3 separate regions of the Homo sapiens genome follow, and all the other regions are linked to region 2. The links come from fine-mapping of genetic effects on gene expression. A gene starts in region 2. Each other region holds a variant in brackets. All regions are shown on one strand. Distances are between the middles of the regions. Region 1 overlaps STYK1 (serine/threonine/tyrosine kinase 1). Region 2 holds the start of STYK1 (serine/threonine/tyrosine kinase 1). Region 3 overlaps STYK1 (serine/threonine/tyrosine kinase 1).

Region 1 (10,689 bases), 54 kb after region 2:
GCTGTACTAGAATTTGATACATCTTAAAAATGTCGGTTACCAGGTCTTTCTTCCTACATTTTGGTTTATTAAATCTGGGGTGAAAATCTTATGTTTAAAAAGCTCTCAGGCAATTCCAATATGCAGACTGACTTGAAAATTTTTAGTAGAGTTTATATAGTACATCCTATGAATTATAATACCTGGTTCTGGTCACTACTGCTTAATAACTCTGTGGCCTTTTGTAATCATTTAGATTTATCTAAAAGAAAATTTCTGAATTCAACCCATGCAGTTATTTTAGGGGAAAAAGTGAGATATGTATATACATTTTTCATTATGATACTCAATTTTGGTACGTATTACATTGTTTTGAGGACTACTGCTAGAAACTTGGAATCAGGCCGGGTGCAGTGGCTCATGCCTGTAATCCCAGCACTTTGGGAGGCCGAGGAGGGCAGATCACAAGGTCAGGAAATCGAGACCATCCTGGCTAACATGGTGAAACCCCGTCTCTACTAAAAATACAAAAAATTAGCCAGGCGTGGTGGCGGGTGCCTGTAGTCCCAGCTACTTGGGAGGCTGAGGCAGAAGAATGGCATGAACCCAGGAGGCGGAGCTTGCAGTGAGCTGAGATCCCGCCACTGCACTCCAGCCTGGGTGACAGAGCGAGACTGTCTCAAACAAACAAACAAACAAACAAACAAACAAAAAAAGAAAGAAACTTGGAATCTACTCCCTTTTCCAGTGTCTAGCTGGGTCCTTTCTCACGGGAAACGAAAATCAGGCAGGGGTCAGTGTTTGAAACAGAGGTGATTATATTTTCAAAATCCAGTATTAATGTCATTTGAATTATTTGCTCAATTTGGTAATCCTAAACACAATGCAGAAATGTGCAGTTCATTAGCATGCTTTGGAAGTGACATATCATTATTAGTGAGACTTGTTCAGAGTAGAAAATGTCCTTGTGTTTTTGAAGATTCCTAGGACTGCCTCTCCTTGTCTGTGACCCAAGCTGTGATCTCAGACAGCTGATCATATTTGATTTTATCTTGACAGGAATTCCTGCAGGAGAAGCATTTGTTCCATGGGGATGTGGCAGCCAGGAATATTCTGATGCAAAGTGATCTCACTGCTAAGCTCTGTGGATTAGGCCTGGCTTATGAAGTTTACACCCGAGGGGCCATCTCCTCTACTCAAACCATACCTCTCAAGTGGCTTGCCCCAGAACGGCTTCTCCTGAGACCTGCTAGCATCAGAGCAGATGTGTACGGTTTATTCCTGGACTCTGAGTTTACTTTCTTCATGACTTGGGTGTTGTCCCTGAATATGATTTGATCTGTTGCCAATTCTGTATACGAATATAATCTCTACTTAGAAATCAGACATACTCTCAAGCAGAAATGTTATGTGACAGAGTTCATGTTTGTCATCTGTCTGCAATCCTTTTTGGTACTTTTTCAACTTTTTCTTTTCTTTTCTTCTTTTCTTTTCTAAGACAGGATCTCACTGTGTTGCCCAGGCTGAAGTGAAGTGGCATGATCACAGCTCACTGCAGCCTCCACCACCCAGGCTCAAGCGATCCTCCCACCTCAGCCTCCCTAGAAGCTAGGACTACAGGCATGCACCACCCTGCTTGGCTATTTTTTTTTTCTTTTTTTTTTAGAGACAAGGTTCACCATGTTGCCTAGGCTGGTCTAGAAGTTCTGGGCTCAAGTGATCCTCTCACCTTCGCCTCCCAAAGTGCTGGGATTACAGGCATGAGCAACCATGCCCAGCCTCAAGTATTTCTTCTGTATTAGATTAGCAGCCTTAATTAGAAAAAAAAAAAGTGAAAAGATTATTCACATCAATATCTGAGGACTTAATCTAGTAAAGTCTGTTTTATCTGAAGGAATAACCAAAAGGCCAGTTAACCCATACATTGTTAAAATAAAAAGAAATATACATACCTTCAATAACTTATTTTAACATAAAACTTATAAATGTACATTATCTGTTTTTTTCAAGGAGGGGCAAGGCTTCTTTTTATAAGGATGAGTTTCCCAAATGAAGTTACACGTTGTTCTTTTAGTGTAAATAGTATCTTTTAGTGTAAATAAAAATGATTTATTTTTGAGTTCCAGTTCAGAATGATTTTAGGTAGCATGAGAAACCTGAAAATAATTGTGAAATTGTTTGACTGCAGACTTTTGATGTTACTTTTCCCAATTTTCTAAGTTGTCTCCCTCACACAATTTGACAAGACTTTCTTTTTCAGCAGTTTATTTTTATAAATCATTTTCAAAACATTCAACTTAGTTTTCAAAACATTCAACTTCCTTCAAACTTTGTTTGAAGGAAGATAACACTTTTTTGCATTTAATCCATATATAAAATACCTAATTGATTATATAACTACATATAATTGCAATTACATGTAAAATTGGCATTAACAGGATCATAAAGAATCACAATTGACTTTTGGTAGCCATATAACTCAATTGCTTGGAGAAGTGCATTGATGTAATGTAGAATATCCTGCTAGCCATGAATGCCATGAGCAGCAGAGGAAATTTAGAATATCAGTTAATATGATGAGTCAGTTATGAGATTTCCATTGTTGCTTCACTGACATCTGCTTTTCAATAGACATCTGGGGGTAATAAACTTAACTGTAAAATATTAATCATTCAATAATGATATTACAGAATAGTGAACTATACACCTCTCAAGTCATATTGCTTAGGCAAATACCTATTTCAACTATATATAAAGCTTGCCCTGTTAATATTTTTCCTAGGTTTGGGCAATTAAATCTACTGAGAAAATAGTGACTAAATGATAAAACTTGGTTGAATTTGTGCTAAGAATAAAGGCAAGAATTTCAGCAGAGAGGGATGGAAAGGAAGAAAGAGACACAGAGGGAATATTTTTAGGTAAATGTGCTTTTGTGATTGAGGTAAATGTGTTTGTGTGGTTACATGCACACACATTTGCAAATAATAACAAACATCTATTAATTTAAAACACAGGAGAGTAAATAGAGATATAATTTCAATCTTAAAAGAGATTCGAACCTATGGAAATTGAGCAGAAATGCTTTCTAATGGCTGTTATTTTGTTTTTCAGACACTCATCCTTGATTCTCCTTCATTGCCTTTTTCATGGGGCTCTTATTAAAGGCTTCTGACACTTAAATGAGCTCTCTTTAGAAAAACAGAAATAGAAATTAAATAGATGGCTTTGTTTCTTTTACAGCTGGTCTTTTGGGATCCTGCTCTATGAGATGGTGACTCTAGGTAAGGATGAGCCCCAAAATAGTGTGTACCTGTATGCAAATATGCAAGCGTGTTTATTTAAGGGGTGGATGATGTATGCTTTCTGAAAGGGTTTCAGTACAGTGCTGAAGCTTGAAATGGACTGACATGTTATCTAAGCCTGATTCCCGTGATAGTCATATAAAGTGATTATTTTCTCCTTGCCCCAGTCCCTTCTTCCCTGTCCTTTTTTACCTTTCTTTTGCTCTCTTCCTCTTTATTTTCCCCAAAATATTACCAAATCCAAGGGATGTTTTCAAATCCCAAGGATAATTCCCAGAGTGGTCTTGCATAAACATAAAAATGTTTACTCCAGACTTATTAATTCATTTGACTGAGAAACTGCACACTTTCCCATGTATGGAGAGTGGAGGACAGGTCTTATGTCTTACTTTGTCTTATTTGATCACTTTCTTAGAGATTCAAGATTCTCCTAACTTATCAGGTTTTTTTCTCCAAAACACCTTTCCCCCCAATTCACTAAATTATATCCATATTTGATCACCAGGGAGCAACTGAATTGTATGTAGTATTTTTCCTATGGCTATATCTTTTGCAAGCAACCAACCCAAGTGGATGAAGAATAGTGTTAGTTACAGTTCATATTTTAGAGGACCTTAAAGTTCTCATTATTTTCGTAATGACAGGAGCACCACCGTATCCTGAAGTCCCTCCTACCAGCATCCTAGAGCATCTCCAAAGAAGGAAAATCATGAAGAGACCCAGTAGCTGCACACATACCATGTAAGTGGTTTTTAAAGGCCTGCTCCTCTTTCATTCCAAATGTTGTTTAGCCCTCTATCAATCGTGCCCTTTTCAAAGGGCTCAGATGATCCTCACCTGTGTATATGTACCCATGTACAGCTTTTAACCAAACCCATGCAGTAAAATATACCTATCTCATATATTATATATGCATATATATTATATATACATATACATACACACACTCACACATACTCACACACATACACACACATACCCCCACCACACGCTGAGAACTATATCAGGAATCTAATTTTATTATAGTTTAGTTCCATGGGAAGCTTCTAAAATAGGTAACAAGTAAACTAAACCCAATGCAAGTATAGTTGTGTTTAGTCTAAATGTCAGTCTTCTGCCAGCCACAGTTCAGACAGCTGTCATAAAAGCCATTGCACTAGAGTTACTCATTCAGAGTATACCAGTTCTTATTTAGTATTTAACTTTTAAATGACTGTCTCCCTGTTTTTCCAACTCTCAGTGTGATAGAAGCCAACCAGAGGAAGGGGAGATAAGAAGAAATTAGAAAGGCAGAAGGAGGATCCAATATTGTCAGCAGATTGGGACAGTTAGTGAACCAACCTAGAGGCAGGAAATGGAAAAATAAAAAATTACATAGACTGTTATTACCAATGAAGTTCAAAAAGGAACTGCTGTAGAATGTAAGAAAAGGTTAAATTGTGTATA[C/A]GGAGGCAGCAGAGAATATATTAATGTTTTTATTAGAATTGTTGCTATTTTGTAAGTTTTTTATCATTGAATGGGTAAATTTACAGCACTTGGTTTTCCTTATGATAAATAATTACTGCATCAAGCAGATTAAATTTAAGTATCTTAATTATATATGAGTATACACATACACACACACGCACAGAATATAGTGATGGAGCTAGGTACAATAGAAAAAAATTGATGACAAACATTTCTATGTGTTAAAGGCTGGTCTTAATACTGGGAAAGACACCTAACTGACAAAATACCTGACCTGGTACCACAACCTCTGGTACTTGTAACACAGCCTTGTCATCTGCAATTCTAGCAGCAGCTTCTAGGCACAAGTATTAAAGAACATAACATTTTGATGAGGAGATATCTGAAACATGAAAATCAACCTAAAGTATGCAGCAGTATACATGATTAAAAGCTCCGTCTCATATCAGAGTAAAAATGACATGTGTTCATTTCTACCCAGCCCTGTTACTTTACTGCACAATGCTTACAACGTTACAGCAAACAATATGTAGTGATAAAACTGTCCTGTCATACCCTAGTTTGGAAAATGTTAAGTCATTCCTATTATACAAGAGCACTTGTTGAGAAAGTGCTATTAAGAGACTTGATATAAAAAGATTGAGAAGGAATATCACTCTCTGGGAAGAATATGAGTAACAGGGCAAACAGAAGACAATTAAAGAATTGCAGAGTTGTTTGTTAAAGTTTGTGAGGAGAGGAGACATGCTCCCCATACATTTGCCTTGTCAAGGAAGTCAGTTTCTCTTGTTTCCCTCTCAGGTACAGTATCATGAAGTCCTGCTGGCGCTGGCGTGAGGCTGACCGCCCCTCACCTAGAGAGCTGCGCTTGCGCCTAGAAGCTGCCATTAAAACTGCAGATGACGAGGCTGTGTTACAAGTACCAGAGTTGGTGGTACCTGAACTGTATGCAGCTGTGGCCGGCATCAGAGTGGAGAGCCTCTTCTACAACTATAGCATGCTTTGAAGAGTCTCGGGCAAGAAACATTCATGCATGAGTATATGTTCTTGGAATCAATTCCTCTAAGAACAGAGAATGGTCTTTCCCAGGGACACAAAGGGAGAAATGGGACATGGATTCTTGATCTTCCTTTACACATTTCTCGGGAAATCTGAAATGATGCTGGATGGGACTCTACACATCCTGAGCTAAGACATACTGTCAGTCTCACTTCTGCTGTCCCAGTCCTAGAAATCCTGGGTAGAAGTGGTGGACCTGTGCAAAGGAGGTTTTAGAACTCTGCAGTATTTGTTGGGGCATGGCACAAATAAGCTCATCCCTCCCGTCCGAGGCTAGTTTCCTCTGGAACCACATTTTTATCTAGATGAAAATTTGGAATGAAATGAAGGAATAGAAATCCAATAAAAGAGTTGAAGGGAAAGAAAATTTAAGGTTCTTCTTGCTCAGGATTACAGATATGGACCAACACCTCCTTCAAGAAAAGGTGGTAGGACACAAAGTTCTTCAGTCCTGAGCCCTACATGTGGGGTTGGAGGAGAACTATAACGGAAAAACCTCTGAGTTTCACCTTAGGTATAGATAAAAGAAAGATGGTCCCCTTTTATCTGATTCTGAGACAGGTAAATTCTGTTTGTTACTACGTTTAATTAGAAGGTGGAGGAGTCATTTCATGATTAAGAACATTCAACATGTATTGTTCATTAAGCTAGCTTCCTAGTTCCGATTAGACTAAGGAGACTAAGCCTAGAGAGTCAATGTTAGAACAGTGAAAAGAATTCTGTGTGTGTGTGTGTGTGTGTGCACAATAAATAGGAAATGTAGAAACCAAGCAAGAAGGCTTAGTAGCTCAGTCTTTAACAAGGGCTAGAAAAGAATGTAATCTGATATGGAAGGATAGCAGCTTCTAATTTTCAATCATCTGTTGATATACTGTGAAACTTATTTTATTAAATTAATATTTATTAAATGGAAATATGCTTTTCTGGTTTATAACTACTAAAAATATCATAGGGAGGATAAAAGTAAATAAGTGAAAGTTAATGCCAATAGAAAAATTCAAGAGATAATGTACAATGTCAGAAAAGGGATTCTTTATGTGTAAATGGGGATAATACCTATTTCACAAGGTTGTTCTGAGGATTGATACGTTTTGAGTATGTATTTGTACACTATCTGGCACATATGCGCTCAATAAACGTGTTTCTCCTTTTCTTTTGCCCTTCCTAACCCAGGACCTTTCATATATTTTTCATTTAAAATCTACTGTGACCAAGAAGAGAAACTCAGTCGCTAACACTGCAAGGCAGGACATGCCTAAAGATGATGATATGGCACAAGTAGTGATATTATACATGTGCAATGATGAAGTCATCATTTTTGTACGCTTTTGGATGATGATAGTGGACTCCTACTATTACAAAATATTGAAAACATCATCATGAGGGCAATTCTGTTGAACATGGTAGTCTGCAATTTTAAAAAACACTTTGGGTACCCTGGAAGGGACATCTAAGGCTGCCATAAGAAAAATGACTGGCAGCTAAAAATGTTGTAGAAGTTGGAATCCTGATGGAATCATAATGAGTCAGCTAAAGGAATAATGATTCTTGCCGCTGTAAGAATACCACAATGACTAGTCAGGATTTAAATGGGTAGCAAGTTGCAGTAGGGAGAAGGGCAGAAGAGTGGCTTCACACAAAATTACAAAGTCCTATGGAATCCCATTGTTGCCTCTCAGCTGTTCAGTTAAGTCAAAATTACAAATATTTACTTATTTATCTGATCACTGAAAAATATTGAGTGTTAAGGCTTGCTGTGCCAGACACTTGGCTAGGTGTAGGATAAAAGAAATAGGGAGCTTTTGATTACAGTCTAGAAGGTGAGACACATTATACATTTATTTGTGTGGGTATCTGTTAAGTGCGAAGTGTTAAGTGCTATAAAGAAAAAGCATAGGGTAGTAGAAGGGAGTTTAAAAGGAACACTTCCCTGAACAGAAATGGGCTATAAACTGAGACCTTAGGGATGGGTAAGTAACCCAGGCCGAATAAGAAGAGTCTCCCAGGAGGAGGACATGTGTGCGTGAAAATTCTGAGGCAAGGAACTGCAAGAAAGCATATGGGTTGCAGCACGGTGAGCTAAGGGAAAGTGGAACACAGTGAAATGGAAGGTTGCTTTGTTGTACTGTCATATTTCTTTTAGTAGGAGGGAAAGAAGCAGACAATTGATATTTAAGTTTTTTACCCCCAATTTTATTTGTTTTTCCGGCCCGGAAAACTGGATACAGTAATTTTTACTCTAAGAAAACTGGGTCTTTCTCTCACTTGGCCAGGCTTCTTCCAGAAGGAGGATGATATTTCTGGCATCATTGACCTTTCAGCCAAACTAGGTGTTTCCAAGCTAATGAATGAAAAAAAGAATCAAAATATTTATCATTTAATCGGGTTGACTCTAGATAGATTTTGTTGTATTGTTTTGATTGCCTTCTCTTCCAGTCTTGTTTTTCCAATCTATGCTTTATTGTTAAAAAAAAATTCCAACACTTAGGAACAACGCAAACACCCACCTAGATACAGTGTCTAAGGGAAACTTGGTAACGTCGTTTAAAATAGAATAGTCTGAACCAGTAGTTCTTAAATTATGCTTATGGAGCACACTATGTTTTTTTATGCCAGATTTAGGTATTCTGTTATTAAAATCAAATAATAGTAGTGGGTTTTTTTTTAGCATTTTAAAACAAAAAAAGTCAGTTAATTAAGATTTCTTAATCTTAACTCTGTTGCAATAATTTTTTTAAATTTTGCTTTAACACTCTTACTGAAATAAATAAGTAGCAAATACAGTGGAAGACTGGAAGATATCCTATTACCCTTAATTTAGCATACTGTGTTTACCCGTTTTGGGGAAAAGAGTTAGAGATTATGCTATGTGTTTGAAGCATATAATATTGTCATTTGCTGGAAAAAAATTTTAGATTGAACAATCGAATTAAATATATCATGTCATGGTAATCTAGAAGTAGCTCCAAGTTCTCGCCATATATGAACATATGTGATAACGAATGGTGTGGAAAGTTTGGTGTTTCTGCATGATCATGATTCTCTTACTTAAAAAGTTAATACCACTAAGTGGTAAAAAGACAGATAAGGCTAACGTCCACAGGGAAGTCTATTATGGAAAAGAGAAGAGCAAGGTGGGTGGATGAATTAAAAATTAAAATACTACCTCATTCTGAGTATTTTTTAAAATTTAAACCACATTATGCACTTATTCTTGACTTACTACTCTGATCCATTTATTAATAACTGAATGAGATAGCCCTGACATCTTTTCTTCTGTAAATACAAAATCAAATGAATCAGACGTTATTCATAAATTAAAAACATGAGACTATAATACCTAGTGCTTATCACAATAAACATGGAACATGTTTCTGAAAATTGGAAGTCAGAATGATTTGATCATTAAGCCCTAATTTCAGATGGAAATAAAACGTTTATTTCTTACCTACTTCACTTTGTGCTTTGAAATTTACCGCTGTGTTAGCAAAGGTGGAAACAGTATTTTGGCTTCACTTAAGCAGCTCAAATATTTATTTTCATAAGTAAACTGTGTTGATATCAGTAAGTACGTCCTAATTTGGAGCCTACAACAAGCAATTTGAAAATGTTCACAATTTTTTTTTTGCTATTTCTAGCCCAACTAAAAGTGTATGAAAAGATTCTAACTGTGCTGACCAACACAGTAGCTTCTAGCCACATGTGTTTATTTAAATGTTAATCTAAATTAATCACAATTAAGAATTCAGTTCGAAGTCACAGTAGTCACATTTCAAGGGCTCAGCAGCCATACAGAAGAACATTTCCACATCACTGTTGTGTACCATCCAAGAATACAACACAACGCAAATGCTTTATCACTTTGTAATTCTTGCTTCAATACAAAAGGTTCAAATTTTGGCTTAAAATATAGAGAGTTAAGTAAATATAGTTTCATATTTTATCTTACAAACAGGTAGGATTATAGTCTTGAACCCCTATGTCATTTTTGGAGATCAAGACAGTAACTGGCCCACTTAACAAAGATGTTAATACTTTGTGCATTCTGTAACCTCTATTTATATAGTTACACATTCTGGTATCCATAGTTCTATTTAGGTAAACATGAAGATGAACATTGGCACATGTGCCAAAAACCTGAAGGAGAGACATTAGGGAATCTAAGATATTGAATGAGGCTTTCCATATAATTCAACAAAATGGATTACAGCTGATATTTCCAGAGATACTACGGAATAGAGTGTTCAAATTTCTGTGAATTATTCTTGTGGTAAGTGTGGTGACCAACCCATCTCAGTTTGCCTGGGTGTTTCCAGGTATGGAAAGTCCCATTTCCCAGGAAACTCCACAGTCCTGGTCAAACTGGAACGGCTAGTCACCCTAGTGGTAAAACATGGTGCTTCCTGTTTCTTACGTACTTTCCAAAATGGTGGCCCATTGTAGGGACTGATTCATTTTTCTATATTAATAGTTATATAACTACTAATATGGACTCAAGGAAACGTGGCCCAATTTGCCTTTTTAGTCATTCTACTTGAACCTTATGCTCTAGCTATACCGAATTTCTTAGTGTTCCCCAAACATGAATTTTCACACCACTGTCTTTGCTCGGGTCATTTTCTGCCTGGAATGCTTTTTCATCCCACTGAACATACACAGAACTTACTTCTCAAGGTCCAATTCAAACACTTCCGTTGACAAGCCTTTTCCAATACTCTTTTTTCAAATTTCCCTACTCTGCAATAGAATGCTCTTGCTTCCTCTGCTGTACTACCGGCATGTTTTACACACTTTTTTTTTTTTAGACGAAGTTTCGCTCTTGTCACCCAGGCTGGAGTGCAACTGCGCGATCTCCGCCTCTCGGGTTCAAGCGATTCTCCTG
Region 2 (10,689 bases):
AGGATTTAGTACTTGTTTCTTTGGTTTTTGTGGGAAAAATGAATATGTAGTATGATTGGTGGATATTAGGAAGTATAGATAAGGTGAGGGTTAAGGGAGATTCACCATCAAGAAATTTTATTTTGTAGTGGTGTAAGAAATCTTCATTAAGAAATTTTATTTTGTAAAGATTTTAAATGGGGATAGGTATTGCATGGTAAGACATACTCATTGGAAAAAATATGCTGGCAATAAAACGAAAAATTAGAAGGTGATACTGAGGAGTGAAGGCCAGTTGGAAGAATCTTACAGAAATTCAGGCAGGAAAAGAAGAGGGGTGAATTCAGATAACAGAAGAGAGAAAAGAGACAAGATAAAGAGAGATTTAGAAGGTATGACTGTTATTGATATTTGATTATGTGAAATGGAGGCAAAAAGATTGAAGAGCATCCATGTGGCATTTCCCAGCTTCCTGATTTGAGCAGCCCAGTGGATACAGTATTCTTAACTTGAAGCTTATAGTCCATTAGGGAGGGCAGTAGCTATTTGGAAAATCATATTTAAAGACTGCTTATTGAATAATTAGTACCAACCTTTAGATAATTATTTAGTGGTATTGTAAAAACTCTGTTCTTTTTACCTTTATCAATGAAGTAGGTAGAAATAATATAAAAAGGGTGCTTTTTTAAAAAAATCAAGTATATAGTTGAAGATATCTCAGTAATATAGCTAGAAAGGGATAATGTCAGAATTTTGATTCAGAATTATTTTTAATGTTTTACCTGAAGGGGACTGAGATGAACAAGATAAAGTGTTTAAAAGATAGATGTACAATCCACTATAGGTTGCATAAGTATAGATTAATAGAAACCTAATTTATTATTAGCAATATTAGGTAATAATATGGCAATTAACACTTATGTACTGCTTTTGATTTTCAAGAAATATTTTTCAAGTATTTTTTTTTATTTGAACTTTCAACAACTCTCTGAGTTGGGCCTTTTTTGTTTCATTTTACACGTAAACAAATTGAGGGTTAGAGAGGTTAAGTGTGAGAACAAACTTTCTGATAACCAGGCGTTATGAATGGAATAAGCTGCTTGTTGGCCGGTCCTCAGCACTGAAGAACTGTAGACAAAGCTGGATGTCTACCTGCTAGAGATGTTCCACAGTGTGCAATAGCTCTAGCAGGAGGGAGTTAGGGGGAGATGAGATTTTGCATTCAATGATGAGAGGATCATAGAGTATGAACCCTGACAAGAACCTGAGGCTAATGTAGTCTAACCTTTTCATTTTACAAGCGAGAAAACTGAGGCCCAGAAAGGTCAACTTGCTCAAGCTGATGCAAGCTCTGGAATCTAGCTGTAGGTCAGTGATCGCTAACAGTCATGCTAAACTGAATGATTCTTTGAGAATCCTGAGGAAAGAAGGAAAACGAGAAGAAAAAAATGAGTGGCCCCAAATGGTTGACATAATATCCTTAATTATCACATTTTTTTAATCCATAGGGAGAACGAATGTTCTTGAGGAGAATAAAAGTAGTTGGCAAGTGGTATATGTTTTTATGGTCAACAACATTTTTTAAAATTTATTTTTTATTTTATTTTATTTTATTTTATTTTATTTATTTATTGATCTTTTAGTATTTACAGGAAACAGAGACTACAAAGAGGTGTAAGACATGGACCTTACACCGCAAGCTCTTCCAAGCAATATGTGGTAGGCAGAATAATGGCCCCCAAATATGTCCACACCCTAATCCTCAGAACCTGTGATTATGAGGCAGGAGAACAGGGTCTGAAGGCAGGAAACCTAAGACCGATTGGCTCTGACTTCCTAGAACTGAATCAAAAGGAAAACCCCACCTCTCCACATCCAAGTAACAAAACGATCAGAGGCTACTTCCTTTGCAACTCCCCCCTCCACCCTTTTCTGCCGTTGCAGATGAAAAATGAAAGGACCTCCAATTGGTCTCCTCCTGCAACCAATCAGACTGGTTGCAGGCCAAGTCTTCATGTGTAAATTTGTAACTTCACTTCAGCCTCCAATTGGTCATTTTGCACCACCAGTCAGACTGGTTGCTGGCCACTACTTTATTTACATAGGGTTTAAACCAAGTAACAAACAGGAAACCTCTAGAGAGTATTTGAACCCCAGAAAATTCTGTAACCAGGCTCTTGAGCCACTTGCTCGAACCTGCTCAGTCTGTGGAGTGTACTTTTATTTTAATAAATCTGTGATTTTCTTTCATTGCTTGTTTGTGCCTTTTGTCCATCCAATTCTTGGTTCAAAACGCCAAGAACCTGGACACCCTCCACCGGTAACAATTATGCTACCTTTAATGGCGACAGTGACATTGTAGACGTGAATGGAGCTTCACAGAAGAAGATTATCCTGTGGGCCCAATCTACTCATCATGTGAGTCCTTAAAGGTGGAGAAACTTTCCGATCTGTGGTCAGAGAGAGCAGGACACACAGCAATGACAGAAGGGTCACAGAAACACACACCTGATGTGAGAGGACTCAACCAGCCACTGTTGGCTCTGAAGACGGGGGGATCAAAAAGGCTATCAACCAAAGAATATGGGAGACCTTTATAAGCTGGGAAAGGCAAGAAAACAAATTCTTCCCAGGAACCTCTAGAAAAGAATACAGGCCTGCTAATACCTTGATTTTAATCCACATAGAATTTTGTTGACTTCTGACTTACAGAACTGTAAAATAAAACATTTATGTTGTTTAGACCACTAAGTGTGTGGTAATGTGTTATGTTAGCAATGGAAAACTAATATATAAGGTAAAAAGAAACAACATATACATGGAAGCTTACCAATGATCAATATTCTCTAGGGTATACCAACCAGGGTTAAACATGAGGTCATATGAATAGTAATTTCCCATACTCTGTCGCCGCCTTTAGTTGGTTGCAGAACCTCTGTTGTTTCTTAAAAGATCTTTTCCCCAACTGTCCCTGAAGATCCTCAAGATAGTAGAGGACCTCATAAATTTTCACAATCCCAAACCCTAGCGGCTACATAGAATCCACTCTTTTCCTTGTCTTAGATTTCTTCTGGTGATGTCTATTGTTCTCTAAATGCCTGGGAACTCCATTTACATGCCAGGCATTGCTGCAGCAGTGACTCTACTGCTGACTTTGTTTATAATTTTCATCAGAGTGACTCTGATCCTCTGTGCCAGTGCAAGCCTTTCAGGTAAGCCTCAGGCCCATGTGGAGCTATCTCCTACTGGTAGCCACTGCTTGCCCTTTTGTGAAAGTTGAACTGCATTTCCAGATAAAGTTGGAAGAATTCACCTGCCCCGCTTTTGTGTTATATTCCCTTGAAAACAGTTCCAAAGCAAAGCTACCTTGTGTACACAAGGTCTCATACGGTTTTGTTGTTGCTGTTGTATTTTTCTGTGAAATAACTCTACCAGTTGTACTTGAGAGTCCCCTCTCACTAGGACTCTGTTATTGCATACGGGCTTGGCCAAAGGACATTGAGATGCAGACCCAGCGCTGAACCCCAAGCTATTCTTGTTAGTGGAAAATACCTTTGTGCTTTGATTTTCTTTTTTCTTATAATGAGTGACTTTCCAGGAATTCCTCCATGCCTTCCGTAAATAGATTCCACCCCACTAAACCAGTAGATTCCTTCCTCACAACTGCAGAATCATACAAGAGGGAATATACTAAGTAACACATGGATGGATGGCTTTAACAGTTTAGAGGAGCGCAGGATCTGGCAGTTAGGATTCATGTAGGCTAAACTGGAGAAGGAAGAGATCTCCAGTGTATATTTCAGTGTGACTTCCCACTACCGTTCAGTACTTAATCTGGACAGAGAGATAATGGGCATTCAACAAATTCCTATGGAATTAATAATGAGGCAGAAATAACGATCTGGTAGAAACACTGGGGCCAAAGCATTGTTGACAATGAGTTGGAGGCTTATAAATTTGAGATGGAGGTAATAATTGAAATTACAAGGGAATGAAAACTTGAAGAAAAAAGAGAAATAATGGATATTCTAACCATCTTATTAATGAGTATAATGTGTGGGACTAGCTATACATATATAACTCCTGGTGAATGTCTGCTGTGTAACTCAGACTATTTGGTACTTAGTTGTTTCTGTGTGTGGGCATTATCATTTCCAGTGTTTTCTCTAACTCAAAATGTTTTTAATGTATAATTTATGTGATTTGCTCAAAAAAATTGGAGAGAAAAATTTTGCCTCCCCTTTCTGGATTGTATTTTGGTTTCTTTTTTAACTTCTATTTCTATAATAGTAACTAGATTTTAGACAAAATTCTGTGCATCAGAATGAGTATCTAGCAATACATTGCAGAAATTTTAAAAATGAGTAAACCACTTTATCTGTCATGGAGGAGCATGCTTGGGGAGGTAGAGTAGAAAATTACATAATATGAAGTTCCAATCAGTTCATTTGGATTTGATGTATCACTTATGACATAAAGAATCTAAAGAACAACTAACTGATGAGATGTCTTCCTTTCCCCTTTTGAGGTAAAATTCACATAACATAAAATCAACCATTAGCCATTTAAAAATGAACAGTTCAGTGGCATTAAGTACAATTCATCCTGTTTTTAAAAAGCCCTGAAGGAAGTGAAAATGCCAATAGAGAAAGCTCTAGAGAACTGACATACCTCAATCTCTAAATATGCCACATTACATTGACTCAAGTTCTTTTTGCTCTAATGACTGTCAGTTTGTGTTTGGTATGCGTTCAATGCTGAATAAATTGGTCACATATTCAAGTTACCTATGACTCTTATTTCTTTAATTGAATTTGTATTAGGTGTTAATATCTAACAGAATTCCTTCAGCTATCTATTGTCTTAAGTATTTTCTATTATTTTAGTTTCCATGTGGACGGGTAACATAACTACCTTGTTCACTGTTTCCCCAGAGGAGAACCCAGGACATAATGGGATATATGTGTGTGTGTGTGTGTGTGTGTGTGTGTGCGCGCGCGCGCGCGCGCGGGCTCTAAATGAATGATCTATTACGTAATCTTGGGGTTTTAATTCTCATTAATTCCTTATAGGTTCCCCCACGTCTCCGCAGTGGTCAGTACTTTTTTTTTTCTTTTTTTTTTTTTTTTTTCTGAGACGGAGTCTTGCTCTGTCGCCCAAGCTGCAATGCAGTGGCACAATCTCGGCTCTATGCGATCTCTGCCTCCTGGGTTCAAGAGATTCTCCTGCTTCAGCCTCCTGAGTAGCTGGGATTATAGGCGCCCGCCATCACGCCTAATTTTTGTATTTTTAGTAGAGACGGGGTTTCGCCACGTTGGCCAGGCTGGTCTCGAACTGCTGACCTCAGGTGATCCACCCGCCTTGGCCTCTCAAAGTTCTGGGATTACAGGCGTAAGCCACCACTCCCGTCCCTTCAGTATTATCTTGTAACACCCCGGCAAAGCCTTCAGGTGGAGAATGTTCCTGGCGCGGAATAATCCACCTGAATGTGAATCCTGACCATTTTTAGGCGCCAATGGAGGCCGCTGCTACGGGGCCGGCCGTGAGGTGGCGCTGTTGCCCTGTATCGTGACTCCGTTTTCACCTGGACTGGAGTCACCGTGATACCTGACATCTAGCAATCACTAGAGTAGGAAATGAGTATAGATCAGCAACAAGTCCAGCCTTTACAGTTGCAGCAGAGGTTTCCTGTGGCTCGAGTGTGGCGAGTCCCGGAAACCTCGGAGCCCGCAGACTTCCCTTCGCGGGAGCCCGCCCGAACTCCATCCTTTGCCGGCAGCCACGCCCCGCAGTGGGAAGGAGGGACTGAAAAGCATTTCCTTGAGGCTGGCACACCTTGCCCTACCCAACCCTGTCATTATTTCCCCTCCGACTGGGCCGGTGCCATCGGAAACCGGAGTGACCAGAGGAGGGACACGGTAGTGAACGGGGTATGGGGGGCGGGCGCGGCGGGGAGGGTAAAGAAGGTGGGAAGGGAATGGCAGCGAGGCAGCTGGGGGAGGACTTTGCAGTTGGGGAGGGAGAAAAAGGGAAGAGGCTGGGAGCGGAACGGGTGTTTATGTGAACAAACAGAAATCACCAAGTGAATTAACCTGTGTTTCTTCGGAACCAGCATCTTGTGGGGTTTGGCTTCTGTGTTTCTATATGATAAGGGAGTAAACCTGACTCAGCAGATTTGGTGCAGAGAGAAACATGAGAAAACCCAGGAATGGGGGACCTCTGTTTATTCCTGGAGAGGGGGCCATCAGGAGAGGGGGAAGGGAAAGAATGAGGTTACAGGAATTACTTGTCAGAGGACTGCATAGCCTTTCAGACCATGGAATCGTTGCTTTCAGCTTCGGCTTCCTCATCTGCAAAGCATAAATACGGTAATTACTTTCCAGGGTTGTTGCGATATTTAAATGAGATATCAATAACCATGCTTTAAAAGTGTACAGCCTGATGTGCTATCCCTTGTTGACTGAATCTCTGTTTTCTTTCCTTCTTTTTATTTGGGGTGGGGAGTGGGGGAGGGAGTCTTGCTCTGTCACTCAGGCTGGAGTGCAATGGCGCGATCTCGGTTCACTGCAACCTCCGCCTCCCAGGTTCAAGCGATTCTCCTGCCTCAGCCTCCCAAGTAGCTGGGATTACAGGCTCCCACCACCACGGCCGGCTATTTATTTTTTTGTATTTTTAGTAGAGACGGGGTTTCACCATTTTAGCCTCTGTTTTCTTTTCAATGTCTTTTTTCCTCTTTCATTTTTCTCTATCAACCCTTCATCCCCCCTTTCTTTCTTTCATTTATGCGATTGTTGCTTCCTTCTGTAATGGGTCCTCTCCACATTGGAGTTTCTTATACCTATGAGACCACACTTCCTTCCCACTCGGTGGGAAGTAGTGGCAATAAAGGAGTCGAGTTACTGTAATGTGCAGCACAGCTCAACTGAAATACACCTGGAAACAGAACTCTGTGCTGTCTACCTGGTTTTTCCCCCTCAATGCACCGGAATCTCCACTGACAGCTAGCTAGGGGGCAGCTAGGTCTTTCAATGAGACATCATGAAGTATTTGCTTCAATGAAAATCATATACTTTTTCGTTCAGTGCCTCCATTACTGTGTGAGTTTGCTAGGGCTGCTGTAACAAGGTACCACAAACTGCATGGCTTTTGGCACCAGGCACCAGGGACTGATTTTGTGGAAGACAATTTTTTTCACAGATGCCGATGAGGTTGGCGGGAGATGGTTTCAGAATGAAACTGTTCCACCTTACGTCATCAGGCATTAGAGTCTCATAAGGAGTTCGCAACCTATATCCCTCACATGAGCAGTTCACAATAGGGTTCACGCTCCTATGACAATCTAATGCTAGTGGGCACGGTGGCTCACACCTGTAATCACACCACTTTAGGAGGAGTTGGTGGGTGGATCGCCCTGAGTTCAGGAGTTTGAGACCAGCCTGGGCAACTTGGCGAAACCCATCTCTACCAAAAATACAAGAGGAAGAAAAAGAAAGAAAATCTAATGTCGTGGCTTATCTGACAGGAGGAGGAGCTCAGGAGGCAATGACAGCGATGGGGAGTGGCTGTAAATGCAGATGAAGCTTTGCTGGCTCACCTGCCTCTGATTTCCTGCTGTGCACCCCGTACCTGTCGGCGCCCCGGGTGTTGGTGACCTCTGGCTTAAACAACGAAATGATTTTCTCACAGTTCAGTAGGCTGGCTATCCAAAACTAACATGTTATGAAGCCTGCATCTATTCCAGGCCTCTTTCTTTGGCTTGTAGATGGCTGTCTTGATGTTTATATGGTGTTCTCCCTGTATATATGTCTCTGAATTTCCCCTTTTTATAAGGACACTAGTCTTATTGGATTAGGGTCCATCCTAATTACCTCATTTTAATTGATTATCTCTGCACTATCATCTCCCAATAAAGTTACATTATGAGTTACTGGGGGTTAGAATGTCAGCATATTAATTTTGAGAGGGTGTACAGTTCAACCCTTTAACAACTAATGTCTTTAATTATGCACAAGTTAGTTGAGCATTGCATGTATTTCAGTTTTCTCTGGCAGAAACTATTTCCCACCTGTCCCAAACCCTCACAACCAGTCCCAACCAACATGTGCTCCGAAGATCTGCCAGGAGTTATGTGATTCTGCAGCTCTGTTTTCTTTTAACCTGAGTGTGTACATTTCCTGTTGCCACTGTAACAAATTACCACAATGGTGGTGGCTTTAAACAACATAAAGTTTTATCTTACAGTTCTGGGGGTCAGAAGTAAAAATGGATGGGCAGGTTTCCAAATGGATGGTTCTTTTTGGAGGCTCTAAGGGAGAATCAATTTCCTTGCCTCCTTCAGTCTCTAGAGGCTGCTACAGTCCTTGGCTCATGGACCCTTCCTCCATCTTCAAAGCCAGGAATGGCCGGTAAAGTGTTTCTCATGTCTTATGCTGACGCTCACTTTTGCCTTTCTCACACTTAAGGATTCTTGTAATTGCACTGGACTCACTGAGTATTCCAGGGTAATCTTTCTATTTTAAGGTCAGTTGATTCATTCCATCTGTAACCTTAATTCCCCTTCGCTATTTCAACGCTATTAAAAATCAACATGGCCAGGCGTGGTGGCTCACGCCTGTTAATCCCAGCACTTTGGGAGGCTGAGGTGGGCGGATCACGAGGTCAGGAGATCGAGACCATCCTGGCTAACAAAGTGAAACCCCATCTCTACTAAAAATACAAAAAATTAGCTGGGCGTGGTGGCGGGCGCCTGTAGTCCCAGCTAATCAGAGGCTGAGGCAGGAGAATGGCGTGAATCCAGGAGGCGGAGCTTGCAGTGAGCTGAGGTCGCGCCACTGCACTCCAGCCTGGGCGACAGAGCCAGACTGTCAAAAAAAAAAAAAAAAAAAAAATCAATATATTCATAGGTTCTGGAGATTAGGACATGGACATCTTTGGGAAGCCATTATTCTGCCTACTGTACCTGAGCTTTCCCAACTGGGTATTCTTTATTTTTATTATATGTATATTTAAAATTTATGTTTAATTAAAAAAATTAAAAATTATATATATATTTATCATATACATGTTGTTTTGAAATATGTATATATTGTGGAATAGTTAAATTAAGCTAATTAACATAGTATTATTTCACATATTTTTGTGATGAGAACACTTAACATCTACTGTCTTAGCAATTTTCAAGAATACAATACATAGTTATTAACTGTAGCCACCATGTTGTACAATAGATCTCTTGACCTTATTCCTCCTAACAAGGAGGAATAAGGTCATACCCTTTCATATCCTTTGACGTCTTTCTAACCCCTCGAATTCCCCCAACCTCTGGTAACCATCTTTCTATTCTCTACTTTTATGAGTTCAACTTTTTCAGATTCTACATATAAGTGAGTTCCTATGATATTTTTCTTTTCGTGCCTAGCTTATTTCACTTAACATAATATCTCCTGGGTTCATCCATGTTGTCAATTTCCATTTTTCAAAAGGCTGAATAATAGTTCATTGTGTTTATACTGTATGTATTTATACTTTATTCATTTATCCATTGATGGACATTTACATTGATTCCATCTCTTGGATATTGTGAACAATGCTGCAATAAACATGGCGTGCAGACAGCAGTATGTGAAATCAGACACACTGATTTCATTTTCTTGCTATCTATACACAGAAGGCAAAACATTGAGCCTTCAGAATAAAAGTAAGATAATATACTGAATAAAGAACATTATATACAAAAGTCAGATCACTATTGGATGTATACCGAATAGTGGGATTGCTGGATCATATAGTAGTTTACTTTTAATTTTTTGAGGAACTTTCATACTGTTTCCCTAACGGTTGTACTAATTTACATTCCCACCAACAGTGTGCAAGCATTCCCCTTTCTCTATATCCTCTCCAACACTTATTTTTCATCTTTTCGATAATAGCTATTCTAACAGGTATGAGGTAATAGCTCATTTTGGTTTTAACTTGCATTTTCCCTGATGATCAGTGATGTTGAATATTTTTTCACATATGTGTTGGTCATTTGTGTGTCTTCTTTTGAGAAATGTCTATTCAGGTCCTTTGTTCATTTTTAGTACAGTTATTTGTTTTCCCCCTATTGTTTTAGTTCCCTATGTATTTTGGATATTAATCACTTACCGGATATTAATCACTTCTCAGATATTTCTACCATTCCATGGGTTATCTCTTCACTCTGTTGATTTTTTCCTTGGTTGTGCAGAAATTTTTTAGTTTGATGTAACCCCATTTGTCTATTTTTGCTTTTGTTGCCTGTGCTTTTGGGTTTATGTCCAAAAAAACATTGCCTAGCCTAATATGATGGACCTTTTCTCTGTGTTCTCTTCTAGTACTTTCACAGTGTCAGATCTTACATTTAAGTCTTTAATCCATTTTGAGTTGATTTTTGTACATGGTGTTCTTTATTGAGTATATTATCTATTTTTATTCTGAAGGCTCAATGTTTTGCCTGCTGTGTATAGAAAGCAAAGAACTTTAAATCTTTTTTCTGAAGAAAAACAACCTGCTTAATGATGGAACAAAAAATGTGTCCCTATCGAACAGAAACCTGGGTACCATGTACTTGCTATATATACTGTTAAAAACTACTCCCCATTCCCCCTTGTACTTTTAGTATTATAGCTTAATCCTTTATGCCCCATTAGTTTCTATAGGTTATTTTTCTATAAAAATTTCTTGCAGATC
Region 3 (10,689 bases), 39 kb after region 2:
GGAGATATCACAGGGCATAAGGCAAGTTATCTACACAAATACGCTTCTCTGGATTTAAAAAGAATCACCTCTCCAGTGTGCCCTTCCATGCACTCTGTGTCCTCTCACTGGTTTGTTTCCCTAGAACGGTAGAGCCTGGGGCACTGAGAGAGACAGCATGAAGACCCTAATTCCTAAGCCAGTGCCCTGTCCCCTGCAATTTCTGGCCTCTTTCTGACCCTCATGCTCACAGTGAAAGATGGCTAGTCCTAAGAACCGGGACTTTTTACTCAAAAAGCAGAAGATAGAAATAGGATTGGGGATCAGACCCAGGAAAATGAACAAAGGAAACAACCCAAGATGACATAATCTGGTGAATACTAGGAAAAAAATTCTGATTCTACTTCTATTTTCAGAATATACTTTAAAGACAGACATGCAGATGTCATCTATGTCCCTATGAGGTTCCTATATGGACACCCTTACAGGCAGATTCAATTCATCCATTCTTTCCAAATTGAGTGTATGTTAGTAAAATTTGGTTTCAGCCTTGTGGTTTCCATGATTCTTTTGGATTCCAATGTAATTCCTTCTTGACCTTGTTGGTCTTTCTCATTTGAAAGACAAGTATATATGCACAACAAAGTAGTATAAAGAACATTGGGTTTGTAAGTAAAAGACCTGGGTGTGCAACCTTGCTCTGCCATTTTTTTTTAAAAAGTGGCTAATTTGGTGGGGTACAGTGGCTCACGCCTGTAATCCCAGTACTTTGGGAGGCCAAGTCAGGTGGATAACCTGAGGTCAGGAGTTCGAGACCAGCCTGGCCAACATGATAAAACCCATCTCTACTAAAAATACAAAAATTAGCTGGGTGTGGTGGCATGCACCTGTAATCCCAGCTATTTGGGAGGCTGAGGCAGGAGAATTGCTGGAACCTGGGAGACGGAGGTTGCAGTGAGCTGAGATCACGCCATTGCACTCCAGCCTGGGCCCACAACAGCGAGACTCCATCAGAAAAAAAAAAAAAGTGGCCAATTTATAACTTAATCACTAATTCATAACTTAATCCCTCAGTTTCTGCCTTGCCTTCTTTGTATGAAAGTGCCTAGCACAATACCTGGCACACTGTAGTTGCTAAACACAGGTTTATTAGATCTGAAAACCGGAAGCTTGTTTCATAGGATGTTGGTAACAAGTAATTCTCAGATTCTCTAGATCTGAGCATTGTTCTCTATCTCACTTCCAAATTAATATATTCAGCCCATTAAACATGTTTTTTGTTTGTTTTGGTTTTGTTTTTTGTTTTTGTTTTTTTTCCAGATAGCTCAAGGGTAAGAATGAAACGCTAACTATACAAGAAGGCAGACTGTTTCAGGCTAGGGGCTGCTACCTCCATATATTTTACCCTCCTCACTTTTAGTCTTTGAGTCCTCTGCCCCATAGCCCAAAGCCATTAATAACTTCCTTGATCCATGTGGCAGCCACCTGGGAGGGTGGATCACTTGTCTATCTAAAAAGAACATGGCTGGAAGATCCACATGTGTTGATAAGCAAGCAGTAAGGTTGAAGGTGAGGCTGGCACAACAGATTTAACTGTACCTTACTGGAACAGGGCCAGATGTTATACTGAGTTCAATCATGGAATTTTTCATCACACATAAGCAGGCAGAGTGCAGGAAATCTGATTTTAGAAGTCTTATATCTAGGTATATTTTGGTAAGAAAAGTTTACTCTGGAAAGTCATGGGTAAATTGCAGATTGTGTCCGGGAGACTGTATTGTGCTAACTGAAAAGAAATGCCACTTATTAAGAGTTGTGTTATGGTTGCAAATAGAATATAGTGTGAATTAAAATAGATGCCTAAATGCAGTGTGACACTATGCTTGTATTGTATGTGTAAAAGTTTAGAATTAATATTACTATTTAGTTCAATTTCGTTATAGTTATATTCATGAGCTTTTATGGTCTTCAGACTATAGTCTTGTAAAGATTTAGCATGGACTTTACTCCTCATTTCACTTTCATTCTCCTCCCTTTTGTATCTCCTTCATTGCACTGTTTCTTCTCAGGATTCTCAATGAAAGAGGGGAGTTAAACCTTTAACATGCTAAGAGAAAGTCTGAAGCAACTGATAAGAGAAATTAAGGAATGATAACTACAAGTGAGGCAATATTATGGTTCTAACTAGAACCCTGCCTGAAGAGATTTGGCTCTGTAGATATAGGATTATGTAAACTAGAGGCAAAGTATATACAAACATATTTTACAACTATCAAACATATTTATCAGAATGAAATATATTACAATTTCACTAGACCCTTGATTCCAATGCCATGGATTTCATTATTCATAACATTAAATAGAGAACTGTGGATAATGCTTTACAGTTCAGCTAAGAGAAGAAGCAGTAGCCTACATATATTTTTTGACATAGTGGGAAAAGTATTTAGAGATAATGAAAGGGAGTGGAGTATTGGTCAGATTGAACAGGAATCTTGGCCAGAAGTGTCCTTCTAGTAGTCAGGTGGGCCAGAGTTGAACCCATCGAAGAGTCATCCTAGAGGTTTTTGGCATTAAGGCATGCCTTTTCTCAGCTTGACAGAGTGGACAGGCAAAGCCATGTGGTTTCTGAGTATGAATTTCAAGCTAAAAAGTGATCTAGAGAGGAATATTGCTGTTACAAGTAAATATAAGCATCCTCTGATGTATGAGCTTTGGTGGCCTCTGTGTGGTGAGGTTTCCCACATTAGCTTTCATGGATATGTGGGTATGCCCAGTGTGTATGCCTTAAAAATCCTAGACTCGGCCAGGCGCAGTGGCTCATGCCTGTAATCCCAGCACTTTGGGAGGCCAAGGCAGGTGGATCACGAGGTCAGGAGATCGAGACCATCCTGGCTAACACAGTGAAACCCCCTCTCTACTAAAAATACAGAAAATTAGCCGGGCGTGCGTGGTGGTGGGTGCCTGTAGTCCCAGCTACTTGGGAGGCTGAGGCAGGAGAATGGCATGAACCTGGGAGGTGGAGCTTGCAGTGAGCAGAGATCACGCCACTGCACTCCAGCCTGGGCGACAGAGTGAGACCCCGTCTCAAAAAAAAAAAAAAAAAAATCCTAGACTCATCTGGTACACTCCATATGCCTCTACCTAAATAAACTGTAACCATTAGAAAGGGTTTATTGTATACACATATGGAAAGCAATTTCATTGGGTGGACCTCATCATTCTATACATTTATCTCCTTGCTCTAGCATCCAATTTCACTGGGCTGCAAGATATCAATAAGCCTTGCCTCTTTAAACTACTTATGTACAAATAAAAGTGATGGTGAGAACCTGGCTCAGGAAATGCAGTAGCAGGCCATATTGCATCCAAAGGTGAGTGCTCTGTAATAGGTGTGATAGTTAGTGTAAGGATATAAGCATGAGTTTGAGTTATCAGGGATTTGTGTGTTTGGCCAGGTGCCTATAGTTGAGTATGGATGGCCCTCCGTGAGCAGTTCACTGTGCCCATGTGGGGGTACACGTACACATGGCTTTAAACGACTCCCTTCAGTATGTATTAGTGGGTGTGTAGTTTGTTTTCTGGGCCGAGCTCATGAGTCTGAGCTAGCTGCTGACTGACCCTTTTTTCCACCTGTGCTGTGGTAAGAGAGAGTGTGCTGAGAACCTCCTCCTCAGAAAGCCAAACTGGTTAAACTGGCTGCTCCCTGAATGAAAACAATTACTTCTGATAATCCACTAAAAAGGAGGCAAAGGAAAGGAAAATAAGAATGATAATAGCAGTGATCACTTTTCTAATAGCCTTCCTGAATTCACCGTGCTGATCCAACGTTTTATTTTTCAGAACTTCTCCTTTGTGCCACTCTCTTAAGGTCTGTTTTTTGAAAGTTTCATCACTAGTGCTAGTCCTTCCATGTGGCCTCATGAATTGTGGAAGCTTTCTCAGCCACATTTCTCCTTGCCATTTTGGTTTACACACTGGATACAGTGGACTTTGCTATCTAACTATTCATCAACTTCTTAGATCCCATTCTAAGAATAAGAATAAGGATAAGAAGTTCCCTCTTCTGTGCCAATTTTCCGCCCGCTGGCTACTTGGCTGTTTACCTGAGCTTCTGTCAACCAACTGCACAGTTTTGTTTCTCTTGAGTCGTAAGGGAATTGTTTAACTATTAAACCCATATACAAGTTCATGGTGCTCCAGGAAGAGTGGAACACAAGTAAGGCAGAATCTGGGAGGCTTCTTTACATAGGTCTTTCAGGCACTGAGAGATTCTGCCTCAGTAAGTAACACTGTGGTTATTAGTATCAGTATTAAAAACAATGCATAATGTAATGATAGAGGACAGCATAATATGGCTAATGTAACACCTGTACAACATAGTAGCATATTATATAAGCTATACTTCTGATTTTTGTTTTATGTTTTTATCAAGTCACTACAAAACTGGATCACATATTTAGACTTATTTAGCAGAAAATCATATTTTCTTTCAAGTTAATCAGAATTAAAGAAGTAGGCTTTGTTGACTATAGAACCATGGGAGTGTCTTGTCAAGCAAAGGCAAAATATAAATTTAGGAGAGGTATGGGACAGTGGTAAACATGAGTTCTCTTTGGAAAGAAAGAACCAAGTTTCTAGGGCTGTTATTTGAAATATGTACTGATTATATTATATAGACTTAACAGTGATACACATAAAGAATCCCTTGCCAGACAAACAAGAAACTAATAACTAGAGTCTACTTGGAGGAGACTGGAGGAGAGTTAAGAACTGGATAAATGGAGAAGAATGGGGGGGAGAAATATTTTTATGCTATACAATTTTACACTACTATTTTTTGAATCATATGAATGTATTTTCTTTTTATTTAAAAGAGAAAGAGAAGGTGGCTTGGTACTGATACTTCCTTTATATCCTTGTAGCAATGAGTGTCCGTGTCTATATCTGATATGAGCAGAGGAAGCACCTTGAAGCTCTGAGGGATGAGGAATTAAATAGTTTTTATTGATAAATGCTGTCTGTTCACTGCTTGTGAGGGTGTGGATATTTCAGAGAAACAAAGCAAATGTGTAACTCATATCCTTCGACATCTGTCAATTTTTTATTTGTTATCTGAATTAACTGTGTGTAAAAATGAAATTAAATGTTTTCTTTAGAGCTAGAAATGGTAGCTCATGCCTGTAATTCCAGA[GAC/C]TCAGGGGATTGAGGCAGGAGGATTAATTGAGCCCAAGAGTTTGAGATTTAAATGAGCCATGCATGATCACACCACTGCACTCAAGCCTGGCTACAGAGCAAGATCCCAACTTCAAAAAATGTTTTGCTTAAAAAATATGATGCACAGCTAAAAAAAATATATTAGACATGCTTAATACTGTAGGGGAGGTAGATCATGCCCACATAACCCATGGATCACAGTTCAGATGGATGTTTTGAATCTGTACTTGATCATGGGAGCAGAAGTCTCGGGTGGGAGGGGAGACTTTAAAATAATTTCAGTAACAGTTGAATGAAAGGACAAGAGCAGATCAGAGCTCTTTGCTGTATAATAGAGAAAAGAGAAACGCTGAGAGGAAGAGAAGGTTGGGAGGGTTCTTCCAACCTGAATATCAGCTAGGTAGATAGAGATAAACGGATGACTCAGAGAGGTAGCCATTTACTTAACTAGTGATCTGTAGAGGCGGTTTAAAATTCTGTGTGTACTTCATTTATTTTTTTTCATTCATTTTATTTTTTTCAAAAACCACTCAATCCTTAGGAATTACTCACAGCTGTGCTGTGTGCATTCTCTGTGGGCCTAGCAGGGAAGGGGACAGCCCTGTGGCAATGGGCATGACACGGATGCTCCTGGAATGCAGTCTCAGTGACAAGTTGTGTGGTAAGTACGGATTCCACAGATGTCTATCCTCTGATTTTAGAATTATGAAGGCTAAGGTCTCGGTAGATTCTAGAAGGAGGATGATTTGATTTCCAGTAGAAATGAAGACAGTGGTGATAAAAGGATGGGGACTAGAGGCCATTGTCTTTTTGGGGAGAGGGTAAGTGCTAATCAGTGATCCAGATGCTGCATCTTCAATCTTGGTAAGAAACTGCCAGAAGCAACGTCATGCACATTTGATGGGCTAAGAAACAGAGTCACTGGGGTTTCTGGTTAGAGAGTTGCTCCCAGCAGTGTTTCTGTTGAATGGAAGTAGAGGAGATGGTAGAAGAGATGACCTTTTCATGTATGATGAGCTGAGAGCTGGCGGGTAGGGGAAATTGCATGAACACCAGGTTAGGCTTCTTCATTCTCTTCTCTTCCTGTGTGATCGCCTACCCAGTCATCCAGGAGAAGCAGTATGAAGTGATTATCGTCCCAACTTTGTTGGTTACTATCTTCCTCATCCTTCTTGGGGTCATCCTGTGGCTTTTTATCAGAGAACAAAGAACTCAACAGCAGCGTTCTGGACCTCAAGGTAAAGCTCAAACTTTGGGGCTGGGCAGGGGCTTAAAGAAGATGGAGATTAGGAAAAAGTATGGTCTAAGTTTCAATGAGCCCATGTCTAGAAGTCTAGGTACCTGCAATGAGAGAGGCATGGGTTCCCTCCCATGGAGTTGAGAGGGGGATGATCTCTTTTCTAGGAATTCCCGAGTTGGAATTCAACACGTGCTTACTGACTGAAAAAAGAGTGTGCAAGAAAAACCTCATATAACCTGTTTCTATTCCTGTTGGACTATCAAAACTTTGACTATATGAGTGCCTAAGGACCTAGGAGAAAGACCTAAGGGGGTAAAGTCCAAGGCTTTATGAACATCCTAGGAGGATGACATATCACCCTATGATACGTTCCATTCCTAATCTTTGCCTCCAGGATATATGATGGAAAGGAGGGGCCTTTATATTATAACAGTCTTTGAAGTGCTAAGTAGATGATAACAGTCTGTTCTGGAGTTCCACTGAGCATATAATAAAAGGGAATCAATTCACAGATGAAACTCAGGGTAAAAAGAAGGAAAAAGAAAACTCTCATAATGATATGAAACTCTATAGTGGCTAATCCTTAGTTTTTCTTTAAATTTTATCCCAATAGTCTTATACTTCACTTTTATAGAAAACTTCTCAAACAAGTTGTCTAAACTCACTCCTACTACTTCTACTCATCACATTCTCTTTTGAACACACTAAAATAAGGTTTTCATCTCTACCACTTCGCCAAAACAAGTCTTTCCAAGGTCATCAATGACAGCTGCATTGAAAAGTCCAATGATCAATTCTTAGTCTTCGTCTTACTTGATCTGTCAAAAGCATTTGAAACAATTTTAAACTTTCTCTTTCTTGAAATACTGAAAAAACTAAAGCCACTTCCTAAATGCTATAATTTTTAGTCTTATGGATTCAAATACATTTTCTATTCCAATGATAGTCCCTTGAACTCAATTCTCATATTAAACCACCTACTGCACAGTTTCAATGGAATACAAATCTCATATGTAATATGACCAAAACAAAGGTCCTGAAATTCTCTCATAAATGTCCTCCGCAAATAGTCTTGCCTATCTTAGTAAATGGCAAGTCCTGTCTTCTGTGTTTTCAGTCTCAAACCTTGAAGATATCAGTCTCAAACCTTGAAACACAGTTTGAGACTGTGTTTTCAGTCTCAAACCTTGAAGATAACTCCTTTCTTTCTCTCACAGTCTGTATCTAATCCATAAGCAAACACTGTTACCCTATTTTCAAAATAAACCCAAGTTACTCTCACATCTCACTGATCACTGCAACACACTCTTAACATTCCCTGCTTCTGCCCCTACTCCTTTATAGAAATGCCAGAATGAGTCTTTTAATACAGTCAGTCCTGTTAGTTATCTGCTTGAAATCTCTCTTCCACACACACACATGCAGTAGCCTCCCACCTTGCTCAGAATGAAAAATGACAAAATTTTTTCCATGGCCTTATGTGATCTGGGCCTCCCTGGCCTTGTCTCCTACTACTCTCCAATGATCCCACTTGGCTCCAGCTACACTGGCTTCCTGGCTATTTCTCAACTATTGCAGCTATGCTCCCTGCTTAATGCTTTTGCAATTTTTGCTTTCTTTGCCTACAATACTCTCCCTGACACCAGCATGGTTTGCTCCCTAGTTGCTTCCAGGCCTTTCTCAAATGTTATCTCATCAGAAAGGCCTTTCTTGACCTTCATATATAACACAGGTGACTGATTCACTGATGCTTCTTCTCCCCACCACCTTTTTTTGTTTTTTTTTTAAAGAGATGGAGTCTCGCTATGTTGCTTAGGCTGAATGTTAATTCAGCCCAGGATCTCCTGGGCTCAGGAGATCCTCCTGCTTTGGCCTCCCCAATAGCTGGGATTATAGGCTCATGGCATCACACTCAGCTTTTTCTCCATCTTTTATTTTCCTCCACAACATTAATTGCTTGATATATTATTACCTGCTTCCTCTCCCCTACCAGTAGAAAGTAATCTTCAGGTGAATCTGGACTTTTCCTGTTCCCAGCACTTAGAACAGTACCTGGCATGTAATAGGTGATATTTGTTGAATAAATGAATAAATGTAGATTTAATAAGAAGGATGAACCTCTCTTTTTTGCTGGCCAAGGGAAGGAGAGAGTACCAGAAGACTTTTTTGACCAAGACTCAAGGAAATATGAAATAACTTGACTTTTGGGGTAACTCAAAGGAGGAAGAATAACCATAGCTTAAAGCTGATTAATTATCCATACCTTTCCTCCAACGTTGAAAGCCATTTGTCTGATTTAAATGACAGTTCTCACTGGCAGTTACCTCCACCTTTAGGCATCTGTGGTTTGGATACCTATTCAGTAACTTCCCTAATTGTCTCCATACCACACTCATGGGAAGTACTCAATTGTAACCCAGAGGAAGGAAGGCAGAAAGGAAGTGTCATGACCGATTTCCTGGGGTCCTTCTTGAGTTGTCCTAAGAACTAATGGGGATTATTATAAAGGTTCTACAAACTTGACATTGATGCTGGTTTATAGAGAAGCATCAGAAGACAACTCCCCATTGGCCAAAGAGAAAACTGCTGAAGGAACCTCCTTGCCAATTTGTTTCAGGGTCTGCTTTCCGGGATCCCCAGGGCGGGGAAAAACTGGTTGACATCATCTCTCTGTTCTAGGCATTGCCCCTGTTCCTCCACCTAGGGACCTAAGCTGGGAAGCAGGACATGGAGGAAATGTGGCTTTGCCACTTAAGGAGACATCCGTGGAAAACTTTCTGGGAGCTACCACACCTGCCCTGGCTAAGCTGCAGGTGCCGCGGGAGCAACTCTCTGAAGTTCTGGAGCAGATTTGCAGTGGTAGCTGTGGGCCCATCTTTCGAGCCAATATGAACACTGGGGACCCTTCTAAGCCCAAGAGTGTTATTCTCAAGGCTTTAAAAGGTAAAACAAGAAGTGTTTGACTCCCCCTTCCCCTAACAGTAAATATTAACAGGCTTTGCGAACATTGAGATGTTAACTAACAGATAGTTGTGATCATAACTGTGTACAGAAGAAGGTAATAGAGTGGAAACTTGAGGCAGAAATGTTTTTCTTGGTGTCTTTTTTTTTAATTACACAAATTGTTTATTTGTGAATCCTTACCCAATCTCCAAATAATAACTAAAATGACTACTACAAATAAGCATAATGTTATGATGAGTAAGATGTTAGCTGTGGGTTTTTACACAGTCTTTATTGTGTTGAGGTACATTCCTTCTGTACTTTGTGTAGTGTTTTTATCATGAAAGGATATTGGATTTTATCAAATGCCTTTTCTGCATTGATTGAAATGATCATATGATGTTTATCCTTTATTCTGTTAATGCGGTATGTCACAGAATTGATTTGCATATGTTAAAACATCTTTGCATCCTAGATTCCCTAGCTCTTCTTTGCATCCTAGGTTCCCTAGCTCATCTTTGCCTATTGAGGCTGTTAAAACAGATTTTTTCACAATGGATGTTACTTGTACTAGGATTCTGAGGTTGTTTCCTCATTTTACTTTATTCTTTGATACCCCTTCCTGATATTATATTTCTTTTTTCTTTTTTTTTTTTTTTGAGACAGAGTGTTGCTCTTGTCACCAGGCTAGAGTGCAATGGTGCCATCTGGGCTCCCTGCAACCTCCGCCTCCCAGGTTTAAGTGATTCTCCTGCCTCAGCCTCCCAAGTAGCTGGGATTACAGCCGTGTGCCACTATGGCCAGCTAATTTTTGTATTATTAGTAGAAATGGGGTTTCACCATATTGGCCAGGCCAGTCTCGAACTCCTGACCTCAGGTGATCCACCAGCCTCAACCTCCCAAAGTGCTGGGATTACAGGTGTGAGCCATCATGCCCAGCTTACATTATATTTCTCTCTCTCTCTCTCTCTCTCTCTCTCTCTCTCTCTCTCTCTCTCTCTCTCTCTCTCTCCTCTTCATGATATGGGCCAGTAATGGTGGATACATAGAACAAGGATAAGACAAGCAAGGATATTAATCCAAAGGACTAGACAGTGATAACTTTTTAATGCAAACAGACTATCTCTCTATTTAGGCAGATGAAAGCCTATCCAGTTCTAATAATTATGATTCTGTGTTACCTTTGATAAAAGATCAGTGACATTAAGCATCATCTTCATCTAATTAGTCCCCTTTGTGTTTATTTTTGCCTTCATTCACTCCCATGTGGGGCCTTGAGAATTAACATCTTAAGTTGCCTCCTGCTCCCT

Evidence for each region. PIP is the estimated chance that this variant, and not a neighbour inherited with it, causes the effect. A credible set is the group of variants that fine-mapping cannot tell apart.
Region 1: its variant is the best candidate, but not a certain one, in a credible set for the expression of STYK1 in nucleus accumbens (GTEx, PIP 0.62).
Region 3: its variant is the best candidate, but not a certain one, in a credible set for the expression of STYK1 in whole blood (INTERVAL, PIP 0.78).

The regions. Positions count from the first base shown.
Region 1 is chr12:10,615,209-10,625,897 of GRCh38, reverse strand. It overlaps STYK1 (serine/threonine/tyrosine kinase 1), which reads left to right. Exons shown (of 11, transcript NM_018423.3): 8 at 1,039-1,247; 9 at 3,220-3,260; 10 at 3,926-4,022; 11 at 5,550-6,975. The coding sequence ends at 5,754. Among named protein-coding and RNA genes, the nearest start is that of MAGOHB, 6.9 kb to the right of the region's middle. The variant C/A (reference allele first, on the strand shown) is at 4,728.
Region 2 is chr12:10,669,174-10,679,862 of GRCh38, reverse strand. STYK1 (serine/threonine/tyrosine kinase 1) reads left to right here and starts at 5,811. Exons shown (of 11, transcript NM_018423.3): 1 at 5,811-5,897.
Region 3 is chr12:10,629,735-10,640,423 of GRCh38, reverse strand. It overlaps STYK1 (serine/threonine/tyrosine kinase 1), which reads left to right. Exons shown (of 11, transcript NM_018423.3): 2 at 3,228-3,353; 3 at 5,738-5,857; 4 at 6,300-6,434; 5 at 9,116-9,379. The coding sequence starts at 5,806. Among named protein-coding and RNA genes, the nearest start is that of MAGOHB, 21 kb to the right of the region's middle. The variant GAC/C (reference allele first, on the strand shown) is at 5,174.